4 separate regions of the Homo sapiens genome follow, and regions 2, 3 and 4 are each reported to be linked to region 1. Evidence: microRNA targets listed by miRTarBase, many of them from high-throughput screens and not tested one by one. Region 1 holds a microRNA gene; each other region holds the end of a gene's coding sequence.

What was found. Region 1 holds the annotated microRNA hsa-miR-577 (UAGAUAAAAUAUUGGUACCUG, at 1,873-1,893, opposite strand). A microRNA usually pairs through its seed, bases 2 to 8, with sites in the 3' UTR of a target mRNA and lowers its output. Matches are read on the target gene's strand: a 7mer-m8 pairs with bases 2 to 8, a 7mer-A1 pairs with bases 2 to 7 and ends in A, and an 8mer does both.
Region 2: the mRNA of NDUFAF3 is a reported target of hsa-miR-577. Seed matches in the 3' UTR shown: 7mer-A1 at 2,471-2,477.
Region 3: miRTarBase lists WAC as a target of hsa-miR-577. Seed matches in the 3' UTR shown: 7mer-m8 at 1,870-1,876.
Region 4: the mRNA of SLC5A6 is a reported target of hsa-miR-577. Seed matches in the 3' UTR shown: 7mer-m8 at 918-924.

What each region holds. Positions count from the first base shown.
Region 1 is chr4:114,655,519-114,658,666 of GRCh38, reverse strand. MIR577 (microRNA 577) reads right to left here and starts at 1,908; the gene lies at 1,813-1,908. All of the region lies in intron 2 of UGT8 (UDP glycosyltransferase 8), which reads right to left.
Region 2 is chr3:49,022,559-49,025,706 of GRCh38, reverse strand. It overlaps NDUFAF3 (NADH:ubiquinone oxidoreductase complex assembly factor 3), which reads right to left. Exons shown (of 5, transcript NM_199069.2): 3 at 2,939-3,005; 4 at 2,731-2,831; 5 at 2,212-2,651. The coding sequence ends at 2,535. IMPDH2 (inosine monophosphate dehydrogenase 2) reads left to right here. Exons shown (of 14, transcript NM_000884.3): 10 at 438-581; 11 at 667-811; 12 at 905-1,048; 13 at 1,129-1,212; 14 at 1,303-1,382. The coding sequence ends at 1,324. Among named protein-coding and RNA genes, the nearest start is that of NDUFAF3, 2.0 kb to the right of the region's middle. RefSeq lists a silencer at 300-439.
Region 3 is chr10:28,619,109-28,622,108 of GRCh38, reverse strand. WAC (WW domain containing adaptor with coiled-coil) reads right to left here. Exons shown (of 14, transcript NM_016628.5): 14 at 1-2,572. The coding sequence ends at 2,503. Among named protein-coding and RNA genes, the nearest start is that of BAMBI, 57 kb to the left of the region's middle.
Region 4 is chr2:27,197,692-27,200,839 of GRCh38, reverse strand. It overlaps SLC5A6 (solute carrier family 5 member 6), which reads left to right. Exons shown (of 17, transcript NM_021095.4): 17 at 261-1,253. The coding sequence ends at 404. Among named protein-coding and RNA genes, the nearest start is that of ATRAID, 13 kb to the left of the region's middle. RefSeq lists a silencer at 2,773-2,973.

The DNA of each region.
Region 1 (3,148 bases):
AATTGTAAGTAGCTTCTTAAAAAATGAGCTTCAGAAACAGTGCAAGTATAATTAAAAGTTGAACGGTGCAAGCCCACCTCCATCCTTGCTATCCTGGATTCTGAGGACATCAGAGTCTTTTAGACCTCTAGAGAGGATAACAGGTCTGAGGTGTGGGGACACACTAGGCTGTCATGTTTGCACTCCAGATCTCTCCTGATACCAGCCTGCAACCCAAACCCACTCTTTTCTCTCCTCCAAGAATGGGAGCCTTGAGAAGGGGCCAGCACAGTAGAGAAACCTATAACACTGCATCCTTTGTTGGCCCCATCCATTCTGAGGAAAAGAATGCCTGGACTGTGAGAGAATCCTACACAGAGATGATAATGGGAGATGAGGGGGGTGGGTGTTGGAGTTCCTTTTCTTATTCCCAACACCAACATCAATAGGCCTCTTTTCCCATTTAATATTTCTGATACAAAGAATGCTCTGCTTTGGTCAGGTGGGTTGCAAAGAATTTCATTCTGCAAAATTTAGTAGGTAAAATGATAGTGAACATTTTGATAGCAAATGCTCTTAAAAAAATCTTGGGATATCAAATGTGATCTCTGACTACTGCTAATATAGTTAACCAAGACTTATTAAACAACAACAACAAACAACACTGAAAATATAAAGGTCACCATTCAAAATAAAAATGCACCAATCATTGTTTTCACTGATTTGTTTGGCAAGAGGCTTGCTTCAAACCCCAATTCCACAATTTGCTGTATGATCTTAATGATGCCACCTATTCTCTCTGAGGCCCAGCTTCCTCATCTCTAAAAACACTTACGATACTTTACAAGCACACTGCAGAGATTAAATGAGATTAAATATATAAAAGTGCTTTGTCAACTAAAAATTATGCTGTTCTCTTCCCTGGCCATGATATCTGATAAGTAATACACAGATTATGGACTGAAATGATATCCACATTGAGAAAAGGAAAAAAAAAAAGGTCATTCTGCACCAAGATATTTTCTCTCAGTTGTATTTGTTCACTATGTTTTGGACTTTTCAGAATAAAGTTGTTTAAAATACATAAATGAAAAGTAGTACCAAAAATGTTCACATGCAGCATCAAATCTAGTTTTCAGTTTTTCAGAAAACTCAAATGATTTCCCAGATCATCTAGAAGGGTATAAACTACAATTACGCTACAGAAGCAATAGAGAGATCAATGTCAAGGCAATGGTTCTATTTTTAAAATCTCAAAAGATGCCTTCAACACAGTGAAAGTTCAGGAGAATGAAATAAGCACCCAGAAGGGTGTATTCATTTCCACTGAGATTCTGCAGTATCGGTTTTTCTTCATTGTGAGCTTGATTAATTTTGCCAGTACAGTTACAATTAAAATAAGTAAGCAAAATTTGAAACCCTGATTTGACTTTGAAAAGTTAAATTTTCAAGGTTCTTAAGACCTTCAAGGAACTGAACACAAGCAGCAGGGACATCCCGAGGATATGATGATGGCAAGGTACTGAGGAGATATGGAAAGTAACCACGAGATAGAAAAAAAGGACAAAAATAATAAACGGAGGTGAAACTCTCACCAGAAAAAAAAAATCACTACGGAAATGATATCTAAATCTTTCTTACGTTACAAAAGAAATTTGATTAATGGACTTGGAAACCCACCTAATTTCTGGGTCACTATTTGATAAATGATTATTTGATAGCCATGACCAGCTGCTATGTACCATATCTGACACTTGGGACATATCAAAGAATAAATAAACAAAATGTTCTGTCTTCAGAGAGTTTATATTTTTTAATGAGGCCGTACCTACAGTAAGTAGATATGGGGAAATGAAGAGCAGATAAAGTATTGAAACCTGGCCTCAGATTCATCAGGTACCAATATTTTATCTACTCTTCACTCCCCCAAATACAGCCTGCCTTGGGTGCCTGAAACTTCCCCCTCAGGTCACAGTTATTTACCAAGATCACAACAAAGTATCTCCTCTATTGTTCTCCCCTGTGAGACCTGTTCTTTCAACAGGGCACCTACCACACTTCTTGTAGCATGTGAGTTTATTCACAAGACTTTTCTTCTCCTAGGTGTAAGATGCAGTAGGTGCTCAATACTTATTTCTTTTAATAAATCAAGAAAGCTAATAGTAATCTAAGTCTTTGAAAGGATAAACAGCAAGTACACTGCTTTATTTTGCCATTCAGTTAACAGGATAAATAACACTGTCGTTTCCCTAGAACTTTAAACAAATTATTGAGCACTTTAAAGAAATGTCTCCTTTCAAAAATCAAGCTTAGCTACTAAATTATGTGACCTACATAAACAAAAGAAAGGCAGTCTTGCTAGCTAATCTGTCTGCCTCCTTTCTTTCCAGAAAAAAAAACAAAAACAAAAAGAAAACACTCAATTTTTTTCATGATAATCAGTATTATGCCATAAAGACACAGAGACTGATGAGAAATATTTACATAGCTTCCAATTCTGACTACCAAGTAAAATTAGTAATGTGACAGCAAAGAAGTCTTGTAAGTAACACCTTAATCAAACGATTAAAGTGGACATCATCAATAATGAAGCAAGTCAAAATCACGTACCACCTAATCAGATGCAACATGCAGAATATAGCATCCCTTCTGTGATATTCCTGTAAGGATGCAAAACCTGAATCCAATTATGAGGAACAAATGATAAACCCAAATTGAGGGACATTCTATACAACAGGCCGATATCCTTCAACAACATCAAAACAATGAGAATCTAAGAAACACTGAGTAAGTGTTCAAGAAGGAGCCTAAAGACATAGCAAATAAAGGCCACTGATAATTCTGAACTGGATCCTTTCCTTATTAAGGACATTATTAGTGGCTCTCACAAAACTTCATTGAGGTGTAAAACTTAGATGGTAGTAATATATCATTGTTAATTTCCTTATTTTTATGGTTTGTATTGTGATTATGCAGAAAAATGCCCTCATGTGCACAAAATATATATCAATGTTTTGGAGGGTGACAGGGTATCATATAGAAATCTTATTGTCAGATGGTTCTGGTAAAAAAAATAACTTTGAACTGAGTTTGCAAATTTCCTGCAGACTTAATATTGTTTTAAAAATAATGTAGTTGGGGATTGTTATATTACAAAAGAAAAATTAAA
Region 2 (3,148 bases), not on the chromosome of region 1:
ACTGCCTGCTCCACACAACCACAGCCTGCTCTCCTACACAACCACTGCCCTTATCTTGCCTGAGCTGCCCACCATTCAGGGAGGAAGGGCTGGGCCTGACCTCAGTGCCTCTGGGGACTAACTGCACGGTGACTCCTGCCCCATCTGATACCAGCTGGACGGGGGCTTTCCCGGCTGCTAAGACTGCATGTGCCTGAGGCTGCCCTGGGCACTGCACACATGCACGTGCACATGTGGGGGTGAGTAGAGGTCAGCACAGCTGTTTGTACTATTTAAGGCAGATGTGGCAGCAGCCATCCCAGACACGTCTGTTCCTCAGCCAAGCTGCAGTCCTGATGCAGATGTAGCCAAAAGCTCCTGGGTCCTAAATATGGCCACAGGGTCCACTGCCCGTCCCCATTAACCCTATCCACCCATGTGTTCCTCCATCTCAACAGTGCTGGCCTGTGGGCGGCCCCAAGCAACAGCAGTGTACAAGGTGTCAGAGTATGCACGGCGCTTTGGTGTTCCGGTCATTGCTGATGGAGGAATCCAAAATGTGGGTCATATTGCGAAAGCCTTGGCCCTTGGGGCCTCCACAGGTGAGGCCCAGTACCCGTGAAGGCCAGTGGGACCCCCTCCCTAGTGCTGCTTAGGCTCTAACCCAAGCACTCCATCTGTCCGCAGTCATGATGGGCTCTCTCCTGGCTGCCACCACTGAGGCCCCTGGTGAATACTTCTTTTCCGATGGGATCCGGCTAAAGAAATATCGCGGTATGGGTTCTCTCGATGCCATGGACAAGCACCTCAGCAGCCAGAACAGATATTTCAGGTGGGACAGGCAAGCCAGTTACCCCACCCTAATCCTGCACTGACAGTCTCATCTCTGCTGTGACCTTGCCCGTGTCTCTGCCTCTCCCTGCAGTGAAGCTGACAAAATCAAAGTGGCCCAGGGAGTGTCTGGTGCTGTGCAGGACAAAGGGTCAATCCACAAATTTGTCCCTTACCTGATTGCTGGCATCCAACACTCATGCCAGGACATTGGTGCCAAGAGCTTGACCCAAGTCCGGTGAGCTTGGGGAGCTGGGACATGGGTAGAGGGGCTGGTCCAGGGCCAGCTACCCACATTTGACCTCTGCCCTTCTTCAGAGCCATGATGTACTCTGGGGAGCTTAAGTTTGAGAAGAGAACGTCCTCAGCCCAGGTGGAAGGTGGCGTCCATAGCCTCCATTCGTAAGTCACCCTGTCCTTGGTGGGGCCTCTGCCATACCTCATGCCTCCTTTCTCCTGCCCTCACCTCACAGGTGGTCCTTCTGCCTGCAGGTATGAGAAGCGGCTTTTCTGAAAAGGGATCCAGCACACCTCCTCGGTTTTTTTTTCAATAAAAGTTTAGAAAGAAAAAAGTGATGCCTGATCTTTCAACAGACAGGTGGGGCTCTGTAGCTGCCACTACCACAGATGCACACAAAAACAGCACCCTCATTTCCAGGGGGAGCCTCAGGCCCCGAGATAAATGTGCTCCATGGACCTGGAAGCGGGTAGTTCCAGGTCCAAAAAGTTCCTCCTGAGGCTGCTCACAAAACAGCTGACTATAGCTATAGCTATGGCTCTTGGGGTTTCAGTCTCACACTGAGCATCTGACTCTGGCTCCCAAGGGGTCAAAGAACAAGCCCTGGGACTGGCATACACAGGGCATCCTGCTAGCCCATAGCTTGGCCATATAGGACCAGGTCAACACACATATATATTCCCTAACTTGAATCTCTCTCGGCCAGGCACATTGGCTCACGTCTGTAATCCCAGCACTTTGGGAGGCAGGTGGATCACTTGAGATCAGGAGTTCGAGACCATCCTGGCCAACATGGTGAACCCTTTCTCTACTAAAAATACAAAAATTAGCTGGGCGTGGTGATGCATACCTCTAGTCCCAGCTACTCAGGAGGCTGAGGCAGGAGAATCACTGAAACCCAGGAGGCGGAGGTTGCAGTGAGCTGAGACTGCGCCACTGCACTCCACCCTGGCGAAAGAGCAAGACTCATCTCCAGAAAAAAAAAAAAAAAAAAAAGCCCAGTGTAGTGGTAGGGGCCTCTAATTCCAGCTACTCAGGAGGCTGAGGCACGAGAATCGCTTGAATCCAGGAGGTGGAGGTTGTAGTGGGCCAAGATCACGCCACTGCACTGCAGCCCGGGCGACAGCGAGACTCCATCTCAAAAAAAGAAAAACAATCAGCGATTTTGTGAGAAAAGCCGTTGAGGTCCTCTCAAATCTGCATGTGAGCAAGTAGGTCTACAACAGGCAAACATACTGCTTCCCGACTTCTGAAAAGTCAAGGAATCCTAAGTAATCTAGATGAAAAAGTGACTCCTTGGTTTCTTCACATTCCCCTCCAAGAGCCCAGTGAGCCATCAGCTCCTGGCCAGCAACACACCTGATACAAAATGGGAGAAGTGTATAAATTATTATGTTGATAAGCAAGATAAGTGCCAAAGGGTAGATAAGAGTGAAAGCATTGGGAAGCCTGGCAGAGTGCAGTCAGCAGGTCAGTTCCTGGCGGTTCATTGAGCAGCTTGGCCCAAAGATGTAAGTGAAGTCCCTCCTGGTGGAGGGATGAGAGCAGCTCCAGTTACTCGGCCTTCATGACACAGGAAGTTGAAGGTGGCACAGGCATTGGGCTGCAAAGAAAAGGCCAGCATCAGCCTGTCTAGCGCCAGGCCTGTGCTCCCCGCAGCATGCCCCAGTCCCGGGACTCACCGTGTCCTGCACTTCCACAGCAATGCCCCGCTGCCTCATGGCTTGAAGCACCTGGGACTGCAGCCTCTCGGTCCGGTCTCCAGTCCCCACCACCACGATCTCTAGGGAAGGGTGGGTGTGGCTAGTCTACAGTTCTGTTGAGAGGCTGCAGTGGGGGTCGCCTTCTGGGGCCCAGAACACCTCTGTTCTCCCTCCCCTTCCCCAGTACCTATCCGGGGCTCCAGCAACCAGAAGAGGGAAAAGCTGTCTTCGGTGATGTCCTGGTGGGATCCCACCTGTGCAGGGAGGAGGCACATTTAATACGACAAATCCACGCAGCCTCTCCCCATCTCCATCCACTGCAGGAGGAGACAGAGGAAAGCCAAGTTTGCAGGGACCAAGCAGGGTGAGGGCCTGTGACTCTGGGCCTCAGTTTCCA
Region 3 (3,000 bases), not on the chromosome of region 1:
AGTTGGCAGTTCAAGACCAGCCTGACCAACATGGAGAAACCCCATCTCTACTAAAAATACAAAATTAGCCAGGCGTGGTGGTGCATGCCTGTAATCCCAGCTACTCGGAACGCCGAGGCAGGAGAATCGCTTGAACCCAGGAGGCAGAGGTTGCGGTGAGCCGAGATCGTGCCATTGCACTCCAGCCTGGGCAACAAGAGTGAAACTCTGTCTCAAGAAAAAAAAAAATTCACTATTAAGAAATACCAAATTAGGCATCTTCTCCTAAATATATGTGACTAATTCATTTAGGGATGTAAACTTTTTTGAAAAACAAAACATAGGTACACAGACCAGTAGACTATAAGCAAATCAAATTCAAATTTACCTAAATCACAAATTGCCATCTGATCAGGAAACATTTGCCTATTACAACAAATTGCTCACTTCTTTCCAGGAAAGATACAGTAAGGTTTCTAGCTGAACACACAGCTCTTTGGGGTTTCATTTACATGCACTAGTTAAATTCAGCAGATGTTAACAATCTCACAGAGGTATAAACATGACAATAAATTAATGACATGTCTTTTCTTACATTTAAAAAGTATCCTTAAATTACAGGAAAATATCTTCAAGATTTTAATTCCTTTTAATTACACTGGAACATTTTTGTATTTTAGAAAACACCAACACTATCGCTTACAGTTAACTTTTTGAGCTTACTGAAAAGCCTGAACATTTAACTTCCATACTTTCAATATATGCTTAAAGCACAAGAGCAATTTCAAAATTTATGTTAGCATCCGAGAATGTAGTAACATTGACATTGATGTCTAACATAAAAAATAAGCCCTTGGTGCTGCCAGTTTTGGAAGCACTTATCTGCCCCAACAGAAAAAAAAAAAAAAAAAAAATCACCAAAAAACCCTAAACCAATTTAAAGAAAAAAAAGAAGAAGAAGAAGAAACACCTTTCTAAATCAGATGGCAAGATTTTGATGGTAAAGGTTTTTTTGTGGGGGAAGAAAAGATTTTTTTCATGCGGAAACCCTTGTGATTTGATACATTACTGGCAGTGTGAAGCTAAGGCTATGTGACTAATATTTCAGCAAAGGAAAAAAAAAGTCAAGGTAATTTTATAGTAGCAATAGTTTCTTTTTTTATTTTAATATACTTTAGGAAACAATATACAAAGCTGCGCTTTCCTGCTATTTCCAGATAACAGCAGGAAGCTCCAATTACACAAATTTAGCGTTTTGTGATGGCTAAGAACAGCAGTCAGCACCAGACTTGAACAGTTAGCTACAACACAAACATCCTTCCAAATGAAATGTCATAATAGCAAGACAGGTAAACCAGGGTTTAACAAATGACAACCACTTGGGAAGTGACTTAATCATTCTTGTTGAATTTCTTATTTCATTAAATATCTCATACACAATTTCCTGTTAATACGTTTTAAACAAAACCTCCCTTAAGGAATTATTTCAATTAAGTATAAATATTCAACAAGAACAGTTCTGATAAAGAATCCCCAGGTAGTTCAAATGCTAATGTGCACTGACCGAAGGAAAAGAAAAATAACAATTTTTGTTTGTTTTAACATGTTTATTACAACAGATACAATTCACATCTGACTAGCTCTGTTTCCTCTTTCCCCTCCCACAACCACGTTCATTGGGCCATTTCCTTATATTTGAGCAATCAATGTACTTTGAGCACACATGCCTGTCCAGCAGTACTTTTAAGTCCATTCTTAACAGGGTGCAAATGGATTTCAATAATTTATACAAACAAGTAGGTTATGCTCAATCACTGCAATTTTAAGCTACTGTACACAGGAATGAAAAGGTTATAGAAAAGTGCCATAGCAACAGTGCCTTAAGAAAGGAGATAAAGAGGAGCCTTAAAAAAATGGATAAAATCAGAATTTCAGAAGGAAATGGAAACACACGGGAAATGAAAAACATTTCTCTGCAAAACAAATGGAGAAGCACTGCTCTTGATCAGGTGCAAGTGTGGAAACAGTTGTTTCATATTTTGTACACTGCCCATATGGTTCAAAATCGTATCCTTAGACACAAATCGCCTGGCGCTTGCACTGAATTTTTGAAAATGCAAGATTTCTGAATGATAAATTAACCCCCCCAATTTTTTTTTTTTTTTTTTTAAAAAAGCTAATTTTGCAGACAGGTTTACATGTAAAAGGCTAGGTATTTAGCCACCTCAGCATTGATTAGTTTTGGATGTCTAAGCTCTGTTACACATGGCTTCCCATGGCTTCACTCTACAAAACATATTTACAACGTGAAGGATACATCTACAAGAAATCTACATTTCAAGGGTTTTACAAATCAATCTTGTATCTTTCCCCTGAATTGACTCTCACAGACCCCGTCCCCTTGTCATTTCCTTTGCCCAGCTTAACGGTCCAAAGTCTACTTAAATGCAGCTCAAAAATGTTAAGATTGGGCAACAGATTTACAGTTCCTGTTCTCAAAACCATGTGCAATTATTCACATCTTCACACCATGAAGGAATTCTGATTTTTTAGCTTTTCAAGTTCCTTAATTTGTTGTCTCAAAAATAGTATCCTGAAAAAAAAAAGCAGACATTAGAACCTGTGTACATATACAAATATTACAGAAAACCCGAGCTTTTATAATTAAAATTTTTTAAATTAAAACAAGTGATTTCTAATTAAGGCAAAGAAATTTAAAAAATTATTTAACTATAAATTGGTTTACAGTTAAGACAAAGTAAACATTTAATACATAATATCTATTAAAGTATAAGGATGATGAAAGGATGTTTTAGTTTTCAAACAACTTTTTATTTTATTTTATTTTTTGAGACAGAGTCTTGCTCTGTTGCCCAGGCTAGAGGGCAGGGGTGCAATCTTGACTCACTGCAATCTCCGCCTCCCGGGTTCAAGCAATTCTCCCTGCCTCAGCCTCCTGAGTAGCTGGGATTACAGGCACCTGTCCTTACGCCCGGCTAATTTTTATATTTTTAGTAGAGA
Region 4 (3,148 bases), not on the chromosome of region 1:
CCACAGGACTGCACTGGCTTGGTGGGCAGAAGGATCTCAGGGCTCAGAGGAGCTCAGCCCCAGCCTGGGCCAGTCAGCTCCCCTCCCCAGCCCACCCTGTGCTCCCTGCTGTGCTATGCCCTCCCTCTTTTCCCCCTGCTCTCCCTCCCGAACCCAGCCTTGCTGGGCTCCCTTCTGGCGGGGACCTTTTTTGTGTGAATCCTGTCAAGCACCCGTCATCCGTCTTCACCAGTTCCACCCCTTTGGCTCTGTGTTTGCAGGACCACCTCGACACTGGCCTGTTTCCTGAGAAGCCGAGGAATGGTGTGCTGGGGGACAGCAGAGACAAGGAGGCCATGGCCCTGGATGGCACAGCCTATCAGGGGAGCAGCTCCACCTGCATCCTCCAGGAGACCTCCCTGTGATGTTGACTCAGGACCCCGCCTCTGTCCTCACTGTGCCAGGCCATAGCCAGAGGCCACCCTGTAGTACAGGGATGAGTCTTGGTGTGTTCTGCAGGGACAGGCCTGGATGATCTAGCTCATACCAAAGGACCTTGTTCTGAGAGGTTCTTGCCTGCAGGAGAAGCTGTCACATCTCAAGCATGTGAGGCACCGTTTTTCTCGTCGCTTGCCAATCTGTTTTTTAAAGGATCAGGCTCGTAGGGAGCAGGATCATGCCAGAAATAGGGATGGAAGTGCATCCTCTGGGAAAAAGATAATGGCTTCTGATTCAACATAGCCATAGTCCTTTGAAGTAAGTGGCTAGAAACAGCACTCTGGTTATAATTGCCCCAGGGCCTGATTCAGGACTGACTCTCCACCATAAAACTGGAAGCTGCTTCCCCTGTAGTCCCCATTTCAGTACCAGTTCTGCCAGCCACAGTGAGCCCCTATTATTACTTTCAGATTGTCTGTGACACTCAAGCCCCTCTCATTTTTATCTGTCTACCTCCATTCTGAAGAGGGAGGTTTTGGTGTCCCTGGTCCTCTGGGAATAGAAGATCCATTTGTCTTTGTGTAGAGCAAGCACGTTTTCCACCTCACTGTCTCCATCCTCCACCTCTGAGATGGACACTTAAGAGACGGGGCAAATGTGGATCCAAGAAACCAGGGCCATGACCGGGTCCACTGTGGAGCAGCCATCTATCTACCTGACTCCTGAGCCAGGCTGCCGTGGTGTCATTTCTGTCATCCGTGCTCTGTTTCCTTTTGGAGTTTCTTCTCCACATTATCTTTGTTCCTGGGGAATAAAAACTACCATTGGACCTAGAATTTGGGCTCCTGTACTGTCTTCACCTGCTCTTGTCCACCCTACTGCATCCTCTGGTGAGGATAAGGAGTCCTATCCTATGTACAGGTCACCTTCCTGTGCTGAGGAGGGGGGCTGTGGCTTCAAGTCCCTGCTGTCCCTGTGTCTGCAGGGGACAGTGTTGTGCTCACCATGGTAGAAGATGCACACCCTCTCCTAGGGCTTCTCATCCCCTGGGGCTTACTTAGTCTGTCCCTTCTCCGGCCCCACTTTCCCTTTGCCAGAACCTTTTGCTCTCAGATTTTTACTTTTGGAACTGGAGGAAGAATGTTCCCATCTGATTTTAGAAACGGAACATTCTAGCTGGACTTTTATGGTCTTGTGAAGAACACTGTGCTCACACCCTCCCACACCTGGCCTCTGCCCCTGCCTGGCCCTGTTCAGCTGCCCACATCAGCTCTGCACCAGCTCTCCGGGGTCTCTTAACAGAGACCGGGTCCCAGGCATATCTGAATTCAGCCTCAACTGAGGCCTTCTCCCAGGGCTTCTAGAGCACATTCCAGCTGTTCTCTCATACTCCATGTAGCTTAGGCCTGGGATGTTCTGTGTCCCTTTTTCTACCTCTACCCCAGCTCACTCGGTCACACCCCAGCCCCTTTCACCTCTGCCCTGGCCAGCCCTGTGGAGGAACAGGGCCTGGTTGTGCCAGAGCCAAGACACTAGCTACTCCCAACCTGCCTAGGCCTCATTTATATTCATGACGACAATATTGTCTCCTAATGGGTCTTAAACCTGTTGCCCTGGATTTTTTTTTCCATTCCACAAGGCTCTGGTCTTGAACATAAACATTCCTTCCAGTATGGACTTCAGGTGTCTGGTCATGATCTATTCTCAGTCTGGGAAGGTACTTTGACAGGCCAAAGGTGTGTCCACTGAATCTACCATATTTCAGACATGCCTGAGTGGTACTCCAGGGAGAACTGGGGAGAATGATCCCCAGGGTTTAATTTGCTGAATTAGGTAGGGTGGAAGTGAGTCTATGTAAGAGGACATGGAAACATTTTACGAGGGGCCCTTGGACTCAGGCCTATTTTGTTTTGTCCTGTGAATTAAAACTTCAATGATGGGAAGATAAGAAGCCTATAATTATTATTTAGAAAAGATTCCTTTGGGAGACCGAGGCAAGACGGTTGCTTGAGGCCAGGAGTTCCAGACCAGACTGGGCAACATAACCAGATCCTGTCTCTACAAACACAAACTAGCCAGCATGGTGGCATGAGCCTGTAGTTCCAGCCACTTGGGAGGCTGAGGTGGGAGGATTGCTTGAGCCCAGGAGGCTGAGGTTGCAGTGAGCCAAGATTGTACCACTGCACTCCAGCCTGGGCAACAGAGCAAGACCTTGTCTCTAAAAGAAAACAGAACACAACAAAATCCCTTTTCCTTCATAGATTGTTTTTGGGGAATGTAATCGAATCTATCATGCCAGACTCCCAAATTCAAGCCTTATTTGTTTCCTGGTTCAGGTGTCCTGGTAGAGCTGCTTCTAGGACAAGGTCTTACCAATGGAGGCAATAGAAACTGAGAATGTCTGTAAAAACTAGAAGTGGACGATTTATATCTCAAGCCCTACAAGAAGGAGAGACTGGTGATTGTCACCAAGAACTGTTGAGGGAATGGGATCATCTCTGGATTCTTAGGGCCTGATCTCTGAACCCATTTTCTGGCCAAGCCAGTGTCTGTAGGAGAGTTGAGAGCAGGATGCCCCTCACTGCTGCCCTTGGTCCAGGGCTTTACATAAAAAATACCACATTGGTCATATCTGCAAACATTGGGATTGTAAAGTAAGTAATGCCCAGAACTGCACTCTGTAAGTCCTCCAAGAACTGTGCATCCTTCCATTAGAAGTGAGGACAGTCCC